Linked DNA regions of Homo sapiens. The protein of the gene in region 3 purifies or fractionates together with the protein of the main gene of each other region. This does not show direct contact. Each region holds a gene or a part of one and is shown on either strand. Other genes may lie near its edges. The genes, in order: LRP1B, RNF20 and OLFM3.

Evidence for each region.
Region 1: the proteins of OLFM3 (region 3) and LRP1B purify together in Homo sapiens (affinity purification with mass spectrometry; 2 studies listed by BioGRID and IntAct, with this or other methods). This does not show direct contact.
Region 2: the proteins of OLFM3 (region 3) and RNF20 purify together in Homo sapiens (affinity purification with mass spectrometry; 2 studies listed by BioGRID and IntAct, with this or other methods). This does not show direct contact.

What each region holds. Positions count from the first base shown.
Region 1 is NC_000002.12:140,699,859-140,707,535, reverse strand, and holds part of LRP1B (low-density lipoprotein receptor-related protein 1B precursor), read left to right. Parts: intron 1-4,982; coding exon 4,983-5,109; intron 5,110-5,243; coding exon 5,244-5,395; intron 5,396-5,690; coding exon 5,691-5,815; intron 5,816-6,914; coding exon 6,915-7,286; intron 7,287-7,677. UniProt on the Homo sapiens protein: Potential cell surface proteins that bind and internalize ligands in the process of receptor-mediated endocytosis.
Region 2 is NC_000009.12:101,529,260-101,537,380, reverse strand, and holds the start of RNF20 (E3 ubiquitin-protein ligase BRE1A), read right to left. Parts: upstream 3,529-8,121; 5' UTR 3,467-3,528; exon of another isoform or gene 3,081-3,466; intron 1,984-3,080; 5' UTR 1,958-1,983; coding exon 1,829-1,957; intron 1-1,828. UniProt on the Homo sapiens protein: Component of the RNF20/40 E3 ubiquitin-protein ligase complex that mediates monoubiquitination of 'Lys-120' of histone H2B (H2BK120ub1).
Region 3 is NC_000001.11:101,801,851-101,805,394, forward strand, and holds the end of OLFM3 (noelin-3 isoform 2 precursor), read right to left. Parts: intron 3,066-3,544; coding exon 2,388-3,065; 3' UTR 710-2,387; downstream 1-709.

The DNA.
Region 1 (7,677 bases), on a different chromosome or scaffold from region 3:
AGTGATTCTAGTGCATCTGCTAAGAAATTGGAAATTACAAGCAGCTTTTGTCAAGTTAAAAGCTTATGCTCATGTAAAGGCTAGCTACTATTGTTCATCTGTAGGGTTTTTATTTGGCTTTCTTTTTTGTTTCTCTTACTTTTTGCAGATAGGGTAACTCACTGTTGACTCCCACGCTAGGAGACGACACAATGACATTCTCGATTCTTTTCTTGACCAAGGCCAACTGCCGACATAAGAGAATTACCTGATCTTCATTTCTGTGCCAGCATGAACATTTTTTGGTTATCTCAGGTTTTCTTTATCATATGTAACAAAGGATCTAAATCATACTCACTTAGGGAAGCCAGAAAAGTAGGAAGAAATGGCACATTTATTGTAAAAATTGCAACTCAAATTCGAGCTCTAGGGAAACAGTTTAGCAATCAAAGAAGAGAATTTTAAATCCAGAGAAAATGATTAATGCCAACTAGTCTTGCTTTTCACAACTGTTCACATATGTAGAGTATAAGGATAACATTTAATACTGTTTCTCTTAAAAAATAGACTTATTTATTATTTTCTTTCACTCCATTACCCTTCTCACACAAAAATCAGAGCTTTGTCACTAATGTTAGCTGTCTCAAATTTATTCATGGGCATTTATAATAATTTGAATGTGTATTTTTTCAGGTTGAGTATAACTGCCTGTGACAGGAAAAAAAAAAGTTTTTCCTGAAAAGTATACCTGTATCTAGACTAATTCTGATGTCAATCTGTACAGTTGTCAGAAGACAAATACAATTAACTTTCAGGGTCCATTAAGGGTTTGCTAGGCCTTTGGGCGCTCCAGTGCTACCAAATGTGATCTTTTTACCTATTTATCCAAATGTCAATAATCAGTTGGAAATTAACTCATGATATGTGCTCATTGCACTGTCTTCCTGCTCAAAACTGTTAGAGTCTAGTTAAGACAATAAAGACATTTGTATTATGACAGTTTCTGATAAAATTTCTATAATTCTGAAAGCCACTTTTAAATGTCCCTTTTAAAATTATATGTTTTTAAATTTATAAGTGCAAGCTTATTTAAATAAAGAACATTTTTTAGTTTAACAAATACTATTTTATTATTCAGATAAAATTCAGTTACACAATATAGCATTTGATTTGGACAAGTTTAATATTTTCTAGATTTCAGAAAGTATTTTTAGTAGGGCTACATGTGCCCATCTGATACTCTAAAATCAGTTTTTCTTGGCTATATCATATAGTGAACACGTTTTTCACAACTGCAAAATTTGAACTCAAATAGGTTCAAACTCAATAGTAATTTTGTCAGTCAATGTTAATATCAGTAGGGTCTGAACCTACTGGTCAAAAACCAGGGACAAATATTTTCATTTCTTCCTATTGCTAAAGACCACATTTAGATGCCAAGAATCTATGTTCATTAATGATATCTCAGGTGCATCTATGTAAGTTATTACCTTAAATTACAAGTCTCTTTCTGCAGTTTTACGAGCTTGGAGAGGGTTCTTTCTCTACATTTGGTTTATAATCCCCAAAGTTTCTCAAGGTGCAAATTCCATTCATTTCTTTACTTTCAATTTCAGTTTAAGGAGCAAATAAATTATTATTTGCTTGACATAAAATGTTTACTTAATTTTGATAGGATTAAAACCTTTTACTTTTATTCAGTTGATAAATTATTTAACTCTAAAAGTGAGTCCTACACAGAAAGATTTGGCTTCACATATAATGATACCATATCTAATCACTACTGTTTTCCACAGGAAAAGAATTGTGTAAATTCTGGATTAAAAAATAGTTTTACTTAGAATAATTTTATGCATTTTTTTTTACATTTATCTCAGCCTCTTGCATGAAAGTATCACAAATTTAAAATGAATAGGGGTTACTTGGAAAAAAAGAGAGTGACTTCTTTCTCAGAGCTAAGACCTTTTTCATATTTTGTTTTCTGTGTGTGTCTGTGTTTTTTTTTTTTTTTTTTTTTTTTTTTTTTTTTTTTTTTGAGACAGTCTCACTCTGTTCCCCATGCTGGAGTGCAATGGTGTGATCTTGGCTCACTGCGGACTCTGTGTCCCGGGTTCCAGTGATTCTCCTGCCTCAGCCTCCCAGGTAGCTGGGACTACAGGCACATGCCACCATGCTAGGCTAATTTTTGTATTTTTAGTAGAGAAGGGGTTTCACCATGTTGGCCAGGCTTGTCTCAAACTCCTTACCTCAAGTGATACGCCTGCCTCAGCCTCCCAAAGTGTTAGTATTACAGGTGTGAAGCCACTGTGCCAGGACTGTTTTTTGGTTTTAAATATGGAGATTTTTTGTTACGCATCTTATAGCTAAGGAAAAATAACATTTGATATAATATCATTATATATTTCTGTGTTATCTTTCTATTTGGTGAGACAGTGTATTCTAGGGAAGACAATATAGGCCTGGATTAGTAAAGCCTGAGTGTGGTTCTTGGCTTGCCCTCTTATTGGCCATGTGGACTGTGGATCATTTACTTCCTAGTCATAATTACCATAGCTGTGAGAATTAGGGCTAAGTAGGTTGGTTGCTACAAAAGTAATTGTGCTTTTTGCCATTACTTTTAATAGCAATAAACACATTTATTTGTGTACCAACCTATAAATAGCTTATTTGATCTGTTCACTCAAAATAATATTTTTATTAGTGCATTTGCAAGTAGATTAACATTAATTAAAATCTTTAATATGCACATTTCTTTTCTTATGTGAACTTTGGAATATGTTAAAAATAGATGATAAGAATCAGATTAGACAGGTAAGCACATGTCTGCCCTGGTCTCACAGTGCCTCCTTCACAGTATAACATTACCTGCCATTTTAATACATGTTTTTCCTTAAAAAGTTAAGTGTAGCAATACATTTCATTTGCGAGTTAGTTATTTTATATTGAATAATATTTTTCATCCACTGACAGCGTACCTTAAAGTCTTAAAAATCTTGACGTTAATAAAGGTGTAGATTTTTAAATGCCTGCTTCAATTATATCTTACCAATAAAATATTAGTTGGATTTTATGCTACAAAGTTTTTCCTTTCTGATTTATAAAGCTTGTAAATATGAATGAAATTTTCTTCAGGATTAATATAATTGAGATTGTAGCCATACCTCATTTTTGTTTGTCTGTAAAACTCTACAATGTTTATTTTACACAGCATTTTCAAGAAAAATATCAACTATTAAAACAAATTAATATACATAAATAATACATATATTTTTATCTAGTTAAGTATCACTTTGTACTTAAATAACTCCAGTGAGTATAAACAAAATATAAGTCTTTAATTTTTCTGTATGCAGTCTCACTGATTCTTACGTGACTATTCACATATATTATTCAAATATCCTGACGAGGCTGCAGGAAAAAGGGAATGCTTAAACACTGTTGGTGAGGATGTAAATTAGTTCAGCCACTGTGGAAAGCAGTTTGGAGATTTTACAAGGAACTTAAAACAGAGCTACCATTCAAATAATCCCATTACTGGGCATATACCCAAAGGAAAATGCATCATTATACCAAAAAGACACATGCACTCATATGTCCATCACCCTGCTTTTCACAATTGCAAAAACGTAACATAAACCTAGGTGCCCGTCAATAGTAGACTGCAAAAAGAAAATGTACATCTATACTGTGGAATACTTTGAAGCAATGAAAACAGCCCTTTTGCAGCAACATGGCTGGAGCTGGAGGCCATAAACCTAAATGAATTGATGCAGGAACAGAAAAGCAAGCACTGAGTGTTCTCACTTATAAGTGGGAGCTAAGCATTGAGCACACATGAACATGAACATGGGAACAAGAGACACTGTGGACTACTTGGGGATTGGGGGAACTACCCATTAGGTACTATGTTGACTATTTAGGTGCCATATAACTTCTAAGAACTAGAAAAAGATACAATAATTTTTAAAAATTAGGAACTATACACCCAGCTGTTGAATCAATGCTTCCCATATTTTTTAAAACTTTATTCACTGCTGATGTCTGATAGTTGGATAAAAACTTCAGTAGATGTAACTTCAAATTAAGAATTAAGAAGGAATTATATTTATCTAAAAGCATGGATTTCTGTATAGTCCTATGAATATCGAATTTTTTGAATGAATGAGTGAAATACATGGATTATGTACATTCTGTTTTTCTACATTTTATTTTATGACATGTTGTTTTATTTTGGCATACTATATGTGTTCTTTCTGCATGACATTTTCTTTCACATAGTCCCCCATTACATTTTGTTTTATAAGATTACTAAAATAAGAATTTCTGCTTTTGCATAAAACCGTATTTTAAGATGACTTCACAAGATAACATAAAATTCAAACTAGATTAGTTACATTTAGCAGTCTAAGTAGAAAAAATAGAAAGTTATGATGCATTCATGTCTATATTCATAAATTAAATATGTATTTACCACAAAATTTCTAATTACCTGGTGCTAAAGGAGTAATAGTGAATGAAAATAGAGGAGTGATCACTGTCCTTGTTGAGCTTACAGTCTAGTGGGGGCAAAAAATATTTATAATAAATGATAATGTAAGGAAATACAAGTGGAAATTTGCCATTCTAATCTGTGTTGTGAAGCAGAGCACATGGTACAGGGAAGACACAGAAGGCTTCTGGAAAGAAATAGTTGAGATATGAAAAGTAGGAAGTAATTAGGCAAACAGATTGGAGAAGAGCATTTGAGACAGGAAATAGCAGGCACAAAAGGTATTTTGGTAGGATGTTGAGTGCATCCTATGATTTGTATGACTGGTTAACTATTTTTTTACGATAAAAATTATTTTATCGGAACCATAAGCACACTGTATATTAACTTCCGAAATGTATTATTTTTATTCTAGTGTGAATGCTACTGCTGTTATTAGTAATGTCTTTTTGCATAGCTCTGCATACTACAAATAAATGTACATAAACACTACAAATTAACAATTTAATTTCAGCCTCTTGTTCTGGACTGAATGGGGACAAATGCCCTGTATTGGAAAGGCTCGCTTGGATGGCTCAGAGAAGGTTGTCCTTGTAAGCATGGGAATAGCATGGCCGAATGGCATCTCCATCGACTATGAGGTCTGTTGGATTTCTTTTCAGTATTTAAAGTGCCTTAACTGACAACTTTAATTTACCTACTTTTAGTGTTCCTTTATTTTCTTAATAAAACAATCAAATATAGTCTGTAACGTTACTTCTTAATCGATATTTAGGAAAATAAATTGTACTGGTGTGATGCTCGCACAGACAAGATAGAGAGAATCGACCTTGAGACTGGAGGGAATCGCGAGATGGTGCTGTCAGGAAGCAATGTGGATATGTTTTCAGTTGCAGTCTTTGGGGCTTACATCTACTGGTCTGACAGGTAATTTATTTTTTCATAAGTATTTGAGTCTCAAAATGTTATTTCAGTGCCAGTTGCTTTACCCTTGTAGGATTTACCATTTCTTAGCAAGGTCACAAAAAGGAACTCACAAAGCCAGTAATTTCCACAGAAAAGGCAGGTACTCTTGCTATTCCAAGCTGAAGCATTTCAATGTCACAGACTAAAGTTGGTTTCTTTCCCTTCTGTTGGTCCATCTGTTATCTTCAGCTTAAGTAACTGGCTTGACTTTAATTAGTCGAAGATTGTTGATCATGTATGTTCAACTTTTTGGCAGAGCACATGCAAACGGGTCTGTCAGAAGGGGCCACAAGAATGATGCCACAGAAACGATAACCATGAGAACCGGCCTTGGAGTCAACCTGAAGGAGGTTAAAATATTTAACCGAGTAAGAGAGAAAGGTCAGCACTCTTGAAAGAATACATAATATGTATATTTTATGTGATTTCTCTCCAATTTTTAAAAACATTGTCAAACTTAGAAATTCTTCTATAAGTCTAAAACCTCAAAACATTATCTTTACATCTAATTTCCTGCAAGTATCATATAGTAGCCTAATACAATAAATATGTCATATTTCATACAAAAGCGTATTTGCCCAGGACAGCACAGGTACATGGACATGTTACATACCTGGCATGTCTTGATTATAGGTTTTGGCTAAGGAATATAGAAAAACTTGAAACATGTATTGATTGGATAAAAAATTAAAAGCATAAGTAGGATATTAATAAAAGGCAGTTGAAATTTTTATACATAATATGAATCATATTATATAATAAGTGGTTATGATCCCAAAGGTGATGCTGTTAATGTAAAATATTTCCAAAGTCATTACTTCCTTAAAATATTTATTCTAAACTTACAGGACAATGATTTGGGTATTTAAAATTTGTTTACCTCCATTAAAATAAATTGTAACTAACTTTTTTGTATCAAAGGAAGTTATAATAATGTTGGAGATAATAATAATGAATTCACAAAGGAGAATTAGACTGGTGAAGAAATTTTAAGTGCATTTTTTATCTTCACTTAAAATTGGAGTAAGAACTTATGCTCAGCATATTTAGGAGGTTAGGCACATTGTAGCTATAGATTTCTTTGATGCTTTCCATATCTCAAAGATAGAGTTTAAAGCAGTGCATTATTTCTGGTGAGATCAATTCATGTTTTAAATGAACAATATATGAAACACTATAAGTATCAAGTTTCAAAAAAGATTTATATACTTAACTGGTTCATTAAGGGAAAAATTTAATGCTTAACTTGGATGGTGAATGAAACAGACTATGATTTTCCAAATAAAGAAACCCAAGATTTAAACTGCTGTGATTTTTTAAAAAACAATACTTTTTTAATTTTTTATTGACCAGCTTAAAATTAAGAGCAAAAAGAGAATATTCAACATCAAAGTTTTAATATTTCTTTATGGAGAATTTTGTTTCAAAAACAAAAGAAAAACATAAACATGTGCATGTGTGTATCATTTTTCTTCATTAGGGACCAATGTTTGTGCCAGGGACAATGGTGGCTGTAAGCAACTCTGTCTTTATCGAGGAAATTCCCGGAGAACTTGTGCTTGTGCCCATGGATATTTGGCAGAAGATGGAGTTACTTGCCTGAGGCATGAAGGCTATTTACTGTATTCAGGAAGAACAATATTAAAAAGTATACATCTTTCTGATGAAACCAATTTAAATTCCCCAATAAGGCCATATGAGAATCCACGTTATTTCAAGAATGTCATAGCCTTGGCTTTTGACTATAATCAAAGAAGAAAAGGTACCAACCGAATCTTTTACAGTGATGCACACTTTGGAAATATACAGCTTATTAAAGACAACTGGGAAGACAGACAAGTAATTGTTGAAAGTAAGTACAGTAATTCAATTTTAAATAGGTGGAAATGAGTATCATTTAGATTACTAGAGAAATAATAGTGGTAATTGCATGTAGCAATTACATTTTCCTAGATTTTATATTCAGGAATGAATGTGACTATATCATCTAACCCTCACCCCCCACCCCCCCGCCAAATGTCAAAGAAGCAATTAATTGCTAGCATGTACAGCAAATTATGATTATTACCTTCTAATCATGGAAGGTTTAATATGTTTTATCATAATGTTTCTTATAAATAACTGCACTAAAATTCATGAAAAATCATTTTTCAGTGTAAAACTATTCTAATTGATTTTTTTTTTCCAGTGGGCAAATTGTATATTTAAGAATATCTGTTCAGTAATAGTTAATCATAGTTTCT
Region 2 (8,121 bases), on a different chromosome or scaffold from region 3:
CTCCTCTCATACACTTCTCTAGCTCAGTAAGTAAAAATTCCATTACTTTCAAAATCCTGGGATGATCCTCCCTCCTATCTTTCATGTGAGTTATCCAATCCATCAGCAGATCTTATCAATGCTACCTCCACAGTGGTCCAAGCCACCATGATTTCTCATTAAGATTACTGCAAAGGCCTCCTATAGCAAAAACTCTGTGCTAAGTCCTGTCAGCCTGCCAGATTTCAGCACAGCTGTGGTGGACAGCTCCATTTACACTGCCATTGTTCCCACTTCAAGCACACTTTGGAGACTCAGTTTTTCTGTCCCGCAATCACAGCTGGCTCCTAACAGCAATCTCAAAATGCACAGGAGGGACTGCTTTCAATGGCAACCTTCAACCAATTGGAGCGGGGATCAGTGGATACATGCCTCAGATCCCCACCTTTGGAGAGATGCAGTTATAGCGAAAGAGAGTAAGAAGAAGAAAAGAAAAAAGTCTGCTAGCTGGACTCTTGTTTATAATCCTTGCTTTTCTATAGTCTCCAAACACAAGTCAGAGCATGTTAGTCTCCTACTTAAGACTATCCACTAACTCCTCATTGCCTCTGGATAAAGTCCACACTGGGGTGTGTGCTATGTGCTTCCCATAAGTATGTGCTTATCCCTGTCAACAGCACATACCCCACTCTAAACAGTCTATTCCCTTGTCAGTGCTACCCTACAAACTAAAGTCTAGGGGCTGTCTTCAGTGTAAAGGATAGTGTCTGGCAAATAACAAATACTCAACAAATATTTATATATTGAGTGAATAAATGCCTTTGGAATGCATGATGCAAGGCAGTGCTAAAACAAAAATCACTTCCTGCCAGCAATATTAAGTACCAGAACCTCAGGCAGCCTCAGAAATGACACTTCATCAACAACTCACTATGAATGTTCCTATTATTCTGACTCAAAAAAAAAAATCAGCCTCTCTAAAATAAACCTCAGCCTCAAAATCAAATAAGCAATAGATGTGGTTTTGCAAGCCATACAAATGTAAAGCATTTTACAAAATGTAAAACATTTTAATATCACATCCCCATGTCTGATTTTCAAAAAAGCAAAATCTTGACGTAGATCAAAACCTGTAAACTTCTGATGTCTAACAGATATATAACATTACTATGAGATTTTGGTATATAATACTCATTTTGTCAGCTCCATAAGAGCAAGGATAATATCTATGTTATGCACCATTATATTATCTAGCCCAATATTAGCTATGAATGCCTCCCATTTATTGACTATTTACTATATTAAATGCAAAGTGTTAGCCCTTAACAGGGACTCTTATTTTATATGCATAAAAATCTAATGTAGCAGGTACTCTAATTACATTTTACAGACAAGAAAACAGGCAAAGGAAGGATAACACAAGGTCAGCCAGCTAGGAAGTGGTACAGCTCAGAGTCAACTCCAGGCAATCTGGTCTCAGACTCTCACTCTTCACCATACTCTCAATGATTGCTAAACTGTCTCTTAGAATCTGGTACTGACTTTTTCAGTGAATGAAAAATAAATGTGTATCTTCCCACTGCTAAATACCTATAGTTAATGTTGTATCAGGCACCACCTTCCCAGATTCTCGAAAGAATATAAGTACACCTTGAAAACAAAGAACAACTATCAATCTACCTCTCCTCTAGAACTGACTACCACATCATTTTACCTACTTTCAGCCTGTTTTATTTCCCTCTTCTTTTCAAATAGCTTCCCCATACTCCAGAAAGCTTCCATGAATTTTTAGTTTCAAGTTGCAACTGACAGAAGACAAGCACACTTTCATGGCACTGTTTCCTCATACCGTTGAAGAGACACCTCCTAGCTTAATTGTTTCCACTGTGGTCCCTGAATCTTCAACAGCTGCCTTCTTCTCAGGAGGCATGGAGGTGCCAGGTTCTCCAGCTGCTCTTTTATTTCCAATTCCTGACATTTTGGCAGAAGAAGACAGTCGTTTTCCTGATAGAAAAAAAGGCAGAAACTGACATAATATATGTAAGCAAAGCAACAATAGAGTAAAACAATAGAGTAAAAACTAGCAACTTTTCTGGCCAACCCTTTAACCTGGATCCATTAATTCCACAACCATCTCCATATTTCTCTTTGAGGAAAAAAAAAAAAAATTAAATTGTAGAGTAAAAGTCAAGGCGGGCCGGGCGCGGTGGCTCATGTCTGTAATCCCAGCACTTTGGGAGGCCGAGGCGGGCGGATCAAGAGGTCAGAAGATCGAGACCATCCTGCCTAACACGGTGAAACCCCGTCTCTACTAAAAATACAAAAAATTAGCCAGGCGTGGTGGCGGGCGCCGGTAGTCCCAGCTACTCGGGAGGCTAAGGCAGGAGAATCACTTGAACCCGGGAGGCGGAGCTTGCAGTGAGCCGAGATCGCACCACAGCACTCCAGCCTGGGCAACAGAGCGGGACTCCGTCTCAAAAAAAAAAAAAAAAGAAAGTCAAGGCTAAATTTACATGACTATAAATTTCTAAATAGGATGGTGATAAGAATGGTGATAAGAAATGAGACAATGGGCAAAGGGTGAAGAGACCAAAAATAAAGTTCTGGAATCTCTCTTCCTGTAATGCCAAAATCAGAAAAGGGCAGTTTGATTATGCCAGAAGTTAATACTACAGTGTTGAAAGAATCACAGAGCTGAAAGAGATCTGTGAAATGCCTACTAAAGTCATTAGTACTAGACAAGTCAGTTATCATCTCTAAGCCTCAGTTTCCTAACCCAGGAATAAATAACCACAGTATATACTTCCTATGCTTATTATAAAATAAAATGGATGATATAATTATAGAAAGAATTTGGCACAAAGCCGAACACAAAGTAAGCACTCAGAAACCCCAGCTCTTCTTTAACGTTTGCAGTGTTTTCCCTATTTCCAAACGCTCTCTCCACTGTTTTATGCAACCCTACGTTAGTTAGACCTGGGTGCGAATTTCAGTTCTGCCTGTTAGAGGCCGTGTTGCTTTGAAACAGTGAATTCGCCAAGAGCTTCAGTTTCCTCAACTGCACAATATTAACGAATATATTTTTCGTCTGCCCTGCCTACCTCCCAGGGTGCTCAAAGGAGGCGGAATGGATGCTAAAGCACTTTGGCTACTTCAGGAAACAACGCAGCCATCACCGAGACTAACAAGACTACTCTGCTTCCAATTCAAGCTCCAGGAGAGGACTATCGCTGGCAACAACCTCAGTAGGACCTCGCCTGGAGAGAGAAGACACAGAAGCAGAACAAGGCTGCAATCCAACTCGCTAAAAGCCAAAGACCTCAGCCTCAGCGTGGATAATTGCAGGCCCAGGAGACTGACGGCCCCAAAACTGGAGAGGGTGGAGACTCCTGAGGCCTGGCACAGTCCTGTTGGGCCCTAAGCGTGATCTAACCTAAGTTCTTTGAACTGGCGCCGCGCGGGAACAGAACTCGCAGCAGTTACTCACCAAGGCCCGTGCAGAGATTCCAGCTCTCACCCCTGACCCGCGGCGGAGACAAGGCAGAACTTCCGGGAGGCGGGGCCACGGAGAGGAAAAAGGGAAAGAAAAAAGGAAGTGGCTTCAACCCAGCCCATAGGACTATGAGACCCCGCCGGGCGGAAGTGACGTACGGAGAGGGCACGAGAAGCTTGAGCAAGCGCCGCCTCCCTAGCAACGCTGGGCAAGCGCGGGACCCTCTCCTGGCTACGACCTCTAAGAGTACTCGGGCCTCGCTGATGCCTGACGGAGAGCCCTTGGCTTTTGTTGACTTGTTGACCTTTGCTACTGCGATCTGGTCTTTCTGCGGGGATAAAGTTCCTCATTCTGTTGCTTGTCATTGGGGTTGCCATCACTCGTTCAGACGGCCGATTGGCTGACGGTCCCGTCAATCTCCGGGGACATGACTAGCCTCAGACACCTCAGAAAATTGTTCGTTGGTACCCCTACGTGCTGAAATGAAGAGTTCTGGAGAGAATCTGAGGGATTTGAGGAATTTCAGATGTTGGGGATTTTTTCCCCCGCACAGGGAGCGGTATTCTGCCCTGTCTACACATTAGAATCACTTGGCCTGGACAAAAGCTTTTTTAAAAAAGCGTTCCCCTCATCTCCTCCCCCCAAACCCCGCATTTCCATCCACTAGATTCTAATGCGTAAGCAGGAGTGACAACTACTGCCCTTGTGCTTTTTTGGGAACAAGAAATTGTCCAGGGAAAAGATAAACGCCAATCAGTCTCTGATCTCAGTACTAGTCTATTTTAAGCTAATTAAGCATTGATTTTTTTTTTTAAGTTTATGACAAACTGCTATTTTCCATTCAGTTAAACTAAATGCGTTTTAATGATAGGACGGTAATTAATCTAACCTATTAATGAAAAGCTGTATGTCTCGCAGAACTATGATAAACTACCTAATGACGTCAGCTAAGGGTCTAGAAATGGAAGAATGATCGCTATATCTTTTTTAAAAAATAGAATTTAGGCATCTTGGGAAAAAAAGAAGCTAATCTACACTGGATTTCTGTTAGTGTGAAGACTTTTGTCCCTGTACCTGCTAGGGCTTACCTGTAAATGAAGTAAGATGGTCAACACCAGGGAAACAAGTGTTCCTGGTGCCTGGCAGTGGAACACCTTGACTATCTTGGAAAGAATTAACTGGCCCCAAGTGGACTTCACATTTCATTCCGTGAAGTGGGAGCCTGAGAACATGTGAGTGGGGACACACCTGCCGAAAAGCATTGTATGAGACAATGACACTCATTCTCTCATCTTCTTTGGTTCCTCTACTCTTAGCAAGCCTTTCATTCATAGAACTACTGAATGGCAAGTAATGGTTTTTCTAGCCCAGAAAACTAGAGGTTCACAGACTGCATTTAGCCAACAGTTATGCTTTGTTTATTTTAGACAGTATTGGCTGTCCTGCGTGGTTAAAAACAAGAACAAAAATGAACTTAGTTGCCAACATTTAAAATATGGCTATTTTACATAAAAATCCAAATTATCAGTTTCTCTAAAAAATGTTGATGATCTTGCAACAGAAGGGTTATATTTTTGCATGGTCACATTGCTTAGAGCAAAGTAGTGGCTTCTTCTTTTTTTTTTTTTTTCTTTTTTTCGAGACAGAGTCTTACTCTGTCACCCAGGCTGGAGTGCAGTGGCACAATCTCGGCTCACTGCAAACTCCACCTCACAGGTTCAAGCAATTCCCATGCCTCAGCCTCCCAAGTGGGTGGGATCACAGGCACACGCCACCACACCTGGCTAATTTTTGTATTTTTAGTAGAGATGGGGTTTCGCCATGTTGGCTAGGCCGGTCTCAAACTCCTGACCTCGGACGATCCATCCACCTCAGCCTCCCAAAGTGCTGAGATTACAGGCCTGAGCCACAGCTACTGGCAATGAGCCACCACGCTTGGCGTGGCTCTCTTTTATTAATAGATCATGTTATTCTTGTTTACCATAATCCCCACTAATCTTTACTGGTTCCTTAGCACTAGTATAGTTTAATTTGAGTATCATCACTTGTGTGTTACATTGTGATAAATCAATTGCTGGTACTACGTAAGTGTCTGGTGGACATTATTGGTGATCTACCCAACAGCTATTCCCCTTCCCTCACCTTAGCAGAACCAGGATTTTTTTCATGTATCCATATAGCACTTTGATTCCATTAAGTCTTAGGGAAAACTGATTTCACCCCAATCTCCAAGGATTGTCTTAAATACTAAGTTCCATTTCCCAAGCCAAAGTCCTAGTCAGCAATTGACACTTTAATCAGGGTGAATTTCTTTGAATACTAGAATTGAAGCAGATTTTTATCTTCCAGATTTTCTGTGTGAGGCTGAAACTGTTGGAGGCTTCCTGAGATCATTCTTGAGAATGGAGCGACCACATAGGGGTGAGCAGAACCAAGAGAATCTCAGGGAAATGGAGCCAATCAACTGAGTTAGGTCACCCCTAACTTCAACCCACACTTGAGTGTTAGAGAAGATTCTACAAAGAGAGCAGACTTTTCTAGTACCTTTCAATTCTCACCATGTAGGTAACCATATTCTCTAGCAACTGGGATATATGTCTTTCTCAAAAGTTCCAGTTATCTAACACCTTCACAGGTGTCACAGCTCTCCAGAAAATAAAATCAACTCTGTGTGTGTGTGTGTGTGTGTGTGTGTGTGTGTGTGTGTGTGTGTAGAAAGAGATTTGAGAAAGAGAGAGAGGGACATTATAAGGAATTGGTTCACAGGATTGTGGTGGCTGGATAAACCAAAATCTACAAGGCAGGTTTGCAACCTGGAGCCCCAGGAAAGATTTGCAGTTTAAGTCTAAAGGCAGTCTGCTGGCAGAATTCATTCTTGCTCAGGGGAGGTTAGTCTTTGTTCTATTAAGGCTCTCAACTGATTGGATGAGGCCTACCTACATTTTGGAGGGTAATCTGCTTTAGTCTACCAATTTAAATATTAATCTCATCCAAAAAAACAAACAAACAAACAAACAAACAAAAACACCTTCACAGAATCATCCAGAATAATGTTTCACCAACTATTTGGGCACAGTGGCCCAGCGAAATTGACACATAAAATTAACCATCATAGTAGGTAACCATATTCTGCAGCTACTGGTGAGATCTGTCTTTTCTGAGCACCTCAGTCAGCCATCTGACATCTTCAAAGTAGCCTGTCTCACTCTAGCGAATTGGGAAAATAGAATAGATGAAGAGGAGGATGGCAGAGATCTCTCTCATTGAATGCATTCCCCATTCATTTCTGACCAGCCACCTTCTGTTCACCATCTTAATCAAGAGAAAAAGGAATATCCCTGGAAAAATAAGTTTTTCCCTCACTTATAAATGGGAAAACAGCATTAGCAATGATAAAAAGAATACTTAATATTTTATTTCACTTTTAAAGTCTCATTGCTTGTATCAAAAACATAATTTAAGCAAATAGTAATCTTTTTTAAAAGGAGAAAACAGACTCAGATTTTAAGTGATTTTTTTTTTCAAATGATGACTTAATGAGTATTTGTTGAAGGACCCAAGTCATTCGACCTCCAGCCGGTCTTCATTAACTACCCAATTCTGCCACAAGGTGGCATAAGGCGACACGCCTCTTTACCCAGTTCCCTTTCTAAAGCTTTGGTTGCACAGTACTGCGCATCAGTCATGTCCTGTCTTCACCCTAACTCTTAGAAACTTGGACAACTACTGAGGGTAGGCTTAATGCTCTCAAAATGGACAAAATTAAGATATTTTGGATTTTTGTTTATTGTTTTTTTCTACACTGCTTTACAAATGTTTTGTTCTAAGATTGTTATATCTCCAGGCATTCCAATATTCCATGAAATCTGGATTGGATTGTATGCCAGACATAATTCAGGAACTCCCTTATTTTAAACAAGTTGTATTTTACTTAGCATGGTATCACTCGTTAAACAGAAACATTTAGATACCATAGCCCTTGCTCTAGACTTGCTGAATCAGAATTTCCGGGGGAAAGCTCTCTGAAAATGCAAGTTCTTACTTTTGTAATTATGCTTCCTATCTGGGCACATTTAAGGAACACTGCTCTAGGTAATGATGTCCAGGTCCACCTGGGAGTGTCCTACAAAAACGAGCCCCCTCCTCTTGTCCTCACCTTTCCCTTCTCCTACCATTCACCCTCGCCACACCTTTCTCCTTCATTTCCATACCCCTGCCTCCTTCTCCCCAGATCACCTGGCCCACTATACTACATCATACTCAGCCCTCTTACTTTGTAATTTCTGGGGACCAGGGAGGTGGCTTACTCAGGGGAGCTAGAGCCAGGTCTGCCTTTTTTAAAGAGTGAGGACAAGGTGTCCTAACAGTCTATGGAAACGTGAGAGCTAATTGGTAGTCACAAATTGTCAGAGGAGCCCCATTTAGTTTAATGCTCTCTTAAAAAGCTGAGAGAAGGCCGGGCGCGGTGGCTTATGCCTGTAATCCCAGCACTTTGGGAGGCCAAGGCGGGCGGATCACCTGATGTCAGGAGTTCAAGACCAGCCTGGCCAACATGGTGAAACCCTGTCCCTACTAAAAATACAAAATTAGCTGGGCATGGTGGTGGTCGCCTGTAATTCCAGCTACTCGGGAGGCTGAGGCAGGAGAAT
Region 3 (3,544 bases):
GTTCAGTTAGGATTAAGACTTTCTGAGCTTGGATTTCTCCAATGCTTTGATTATGTGCGTGATTTAAAAATACTCATTATTTCCCTCGTAAGATTTATTTTCTTTGTTGGAGATTAAAAAAACAGTGAATAGAGTAGTTCTTATTTATTTCAGGCAAAAAACTGATAATAATTTATTAAGAAAAAATGCTTTTAAACTGTAAATGTTTAATGATTATCACATTTTAAAATTCATGTTTCCCCACTTCTAGTGACAATAATAATATCTGTGCTTGCTCTAGCAGCACATACACTATAAATTGGAAATCATGATAAAATCTTACATAGAAAACAATAAAGTGGTTTGCAAGTTTCATACCTCATGAATAAGCTGTGATCAGCCAAATTGTGAATGTATGTGGTACCATATAACATCATTTTAAACAAGTAATGATGATCCAGATATCTATTAGAGGCTATCTACTTAAAATTTCATTCATTTTTAAAATTAAAGTGACTTTCTTTCCTCATACAAACTCAATATATGGAACACAGACTGGTTGTTTTTGTGGTGTGTGTACAATGACAAGTGAATCTCTTAAATTTTCCAACTCCCAGTAGCAAACCAGAGCTTATGTAAACTCGTTAAAAAAAGAATAAAATATTGCAAAAGGACCCAGAGTAGTCATTCAATCATGTTAACTTTTTGTAGGCAAAAAAAGAAATCATTGTTAAACCTTGACAGTTTCAAGATTGGGTTATTTAATTCTACAATTTTGACAGTGAGATATTTGAGGATGATGCTTTACTTGTGACATTTGAAATGAATTACACTTAAATGTTAGGATTTCTTTACATGATGCTTTATCTAAATCATTACATCCTTATCTTTCAAAGAAAATCATGGTACTATGTATGTGTGAAACTAAACATTTAAAACAATTTGTTTTATTATTTATTATAGAATATACTTTTTAAATTGTAAAACCAACCTATATTAGTTTCCATAAAGCTGCCTTAGGGAACTATTTTTTTAATATGTGGAAAATACATCCAAACTCAATGAAATGTTTGATATATAGTTAGCTTATATGTTTCATAGAGTTATTAACATAAGTATTATTAAAGCTCTTCCCTTTTGGTTACATTATTTTTCCACATACAGTGAATCAAGGTAACAAGGGGTCGTTTTTCCATTTTGTTTTCTGAATTGGTTATTTACACTTTTGAAACCACAAAGACAACTCCCAAGTCTCCCCATATTTTATTTTGCACAAATCTTGCCAATAACTCCTCAGGGCTCATAATCTAAATCTAGAGGACATTACAGAATTTTTTTTTTCTAAGAGTTTTCAAATGTGCTTATTTTCAGGGTCCTGACATAAGGAATTTCATTATTGCAAGTTGTATGTAAAATATAAATTAAATGCTAGTACATTTAACTATGAAGAACAAAATTTCTTTAGTGTATAATAAATGAGTAGAGTCAACTCAAATCCAATATTTGGAATCCAGATGCACCTTGTGCAAGAAACTATATGGGTTGCATTCAGTGGAGTGAACAGAGTAACTCAGTTGTATGAAATCAGTTGTTGCATTCAATGTCAGTGGCCCAAAAAACTTGGGGTAAAATAAAGACTCTATGTCAGGTGTCTGGTTTGGTTTTCATTTTAGTTTATAATGCTTATGTAAAGGGGTAAGCCAAGAAGATTATTCTTGACCACACTTGAAAATGGACTCAATTACTGAGGTTAAATTTCAGTGTATTTTATAAAAAATATTACTTTCACAGAAGTGAAGAGATACAATAGCACAATGGTGGTTACAATGGTAGAAATACATACTGCCAATAAAATGTTAGCAAGAGATTTAAAAATGACTGTACAGCACCGCATCAGAGAATTGTGTTAACAGCAAAATGATTAATATTATTTTTCAATATAAATGAAATCCTTACATTTTTTAAAGAAATAAATGGGATAAAAGTGCTTTTTGTTCTCCTAATTCCTACCAAAATATTTCCTGATATGGAGCAAAAGACAGTAAAAAATGACAGTTTTAAAAAAAAAGACATTCGTGCATTTAAGCCACCATTAGTCTCTGACTCTAATATAAGGCAGATCATTAATCTCTTGCAAAACTATGACTTTAGCCACTTAAACTCTTTTTTTTTTTAGTGCTTTTCATGACAAGGACATGATAGGCCTTGTAAATTTAGAAGTTAAGATGTGTTTCCAACATGGTAAGTTAGACAAGCTCAGCTATGTTTTTGAAACACCAACTTTACAATAAAAATGCTTTGCTTTGGAGAAATGATGAAAAATAATAGTGAAGAAAAAAACGGAAGGGGTCTTATAGAGTTTATCACAAATCACACTGTTTAAATCAATGAAAACATGTCACATTTGCCTATGTGTCATCCTCTGTCTTGATGATATGGAAAAGGGTGACATTGAACAGCACCTGGTGGCCATTGTTCCAGGCATAGAGAGCTCGATCTCTTGCATTGTAGTCAAGCATGGATATGTGAAAGTATTGGTTATGGAAGGGAATGTCTGTGTACTCATATGTGGAGGTTTTGGTGGAATAGGAATAATACACCTTGGCTCCAGTTAAGTGGGAGTTGGTGACATACAGTGTCCCACAGATCATGAAAGATTCCCCTGCACTTCTCTTGGGGTAGCCAGTGCTCCAGCTCTTCATCACCTCCAAGGTATCTTGGTTAAGTTGGCTGATGACAATATTGCCTGCATTCTGGTTAGTTGCATACACAGCCCACAGCCCGATTTCATCAGCCATTAGGTCGATGTCAGAGAATCCACCCCATGTGTAGGGGTAAACATTATGAAAACCAGCATACTCCAGGCTTCGTTGGGCAAGCACTCTCCCCATATCAAAGCTGTATTTGATGATGATATTACTCTGATACTTGTTAAAATAGAGTGAGCCATTGTAGACAACATGGTTAGTTCCTGCCCACTTGAAAGGAAGGTTGTATGTCCTTGATTCAGCCCCACTGACAAAGTCTGCAATTGATTTGTATTCACGAACAATTTTATTGTTAGTATAACTGTCCATGTACCAGACCTGAGAAGAAGGAAAAAAATAAATGGAGTGACTAAATTCTGTACTTTTCTGATAACCCCAAAAGAAAGACAGTGAGAGTCAACACTTATTATAATTCTCAGGCTCTGGAAGCCACACTATCTTACTGCTGACCTGCCGCAATGTATTTCAGGCTTTTGTAAAAATATTGCTATGGTCTGTCCATGTGGAAAAGAAATAACTGAATTTACTACCTTGACATTAATTTGCTTTTTTGCTTTTTCTCTCTTTGTTTTTTAAATTCCTGACCATTTGGTGCATATCACTGAGTGAACCAATCATATGTCAATGCAAATTACACCTGATAAATAATGCCATCAGTGAAAACTACAGCAAATACAACCTTCAGCAAATTACATTTATTCTATCCCTTGCTCTGAAAAAAATGTATAGTCTAGTTTTTCGTATTCAATTGAAATAAGTACCATAGAATCTTCTAGAAACACTTGTTTATTGGGCTA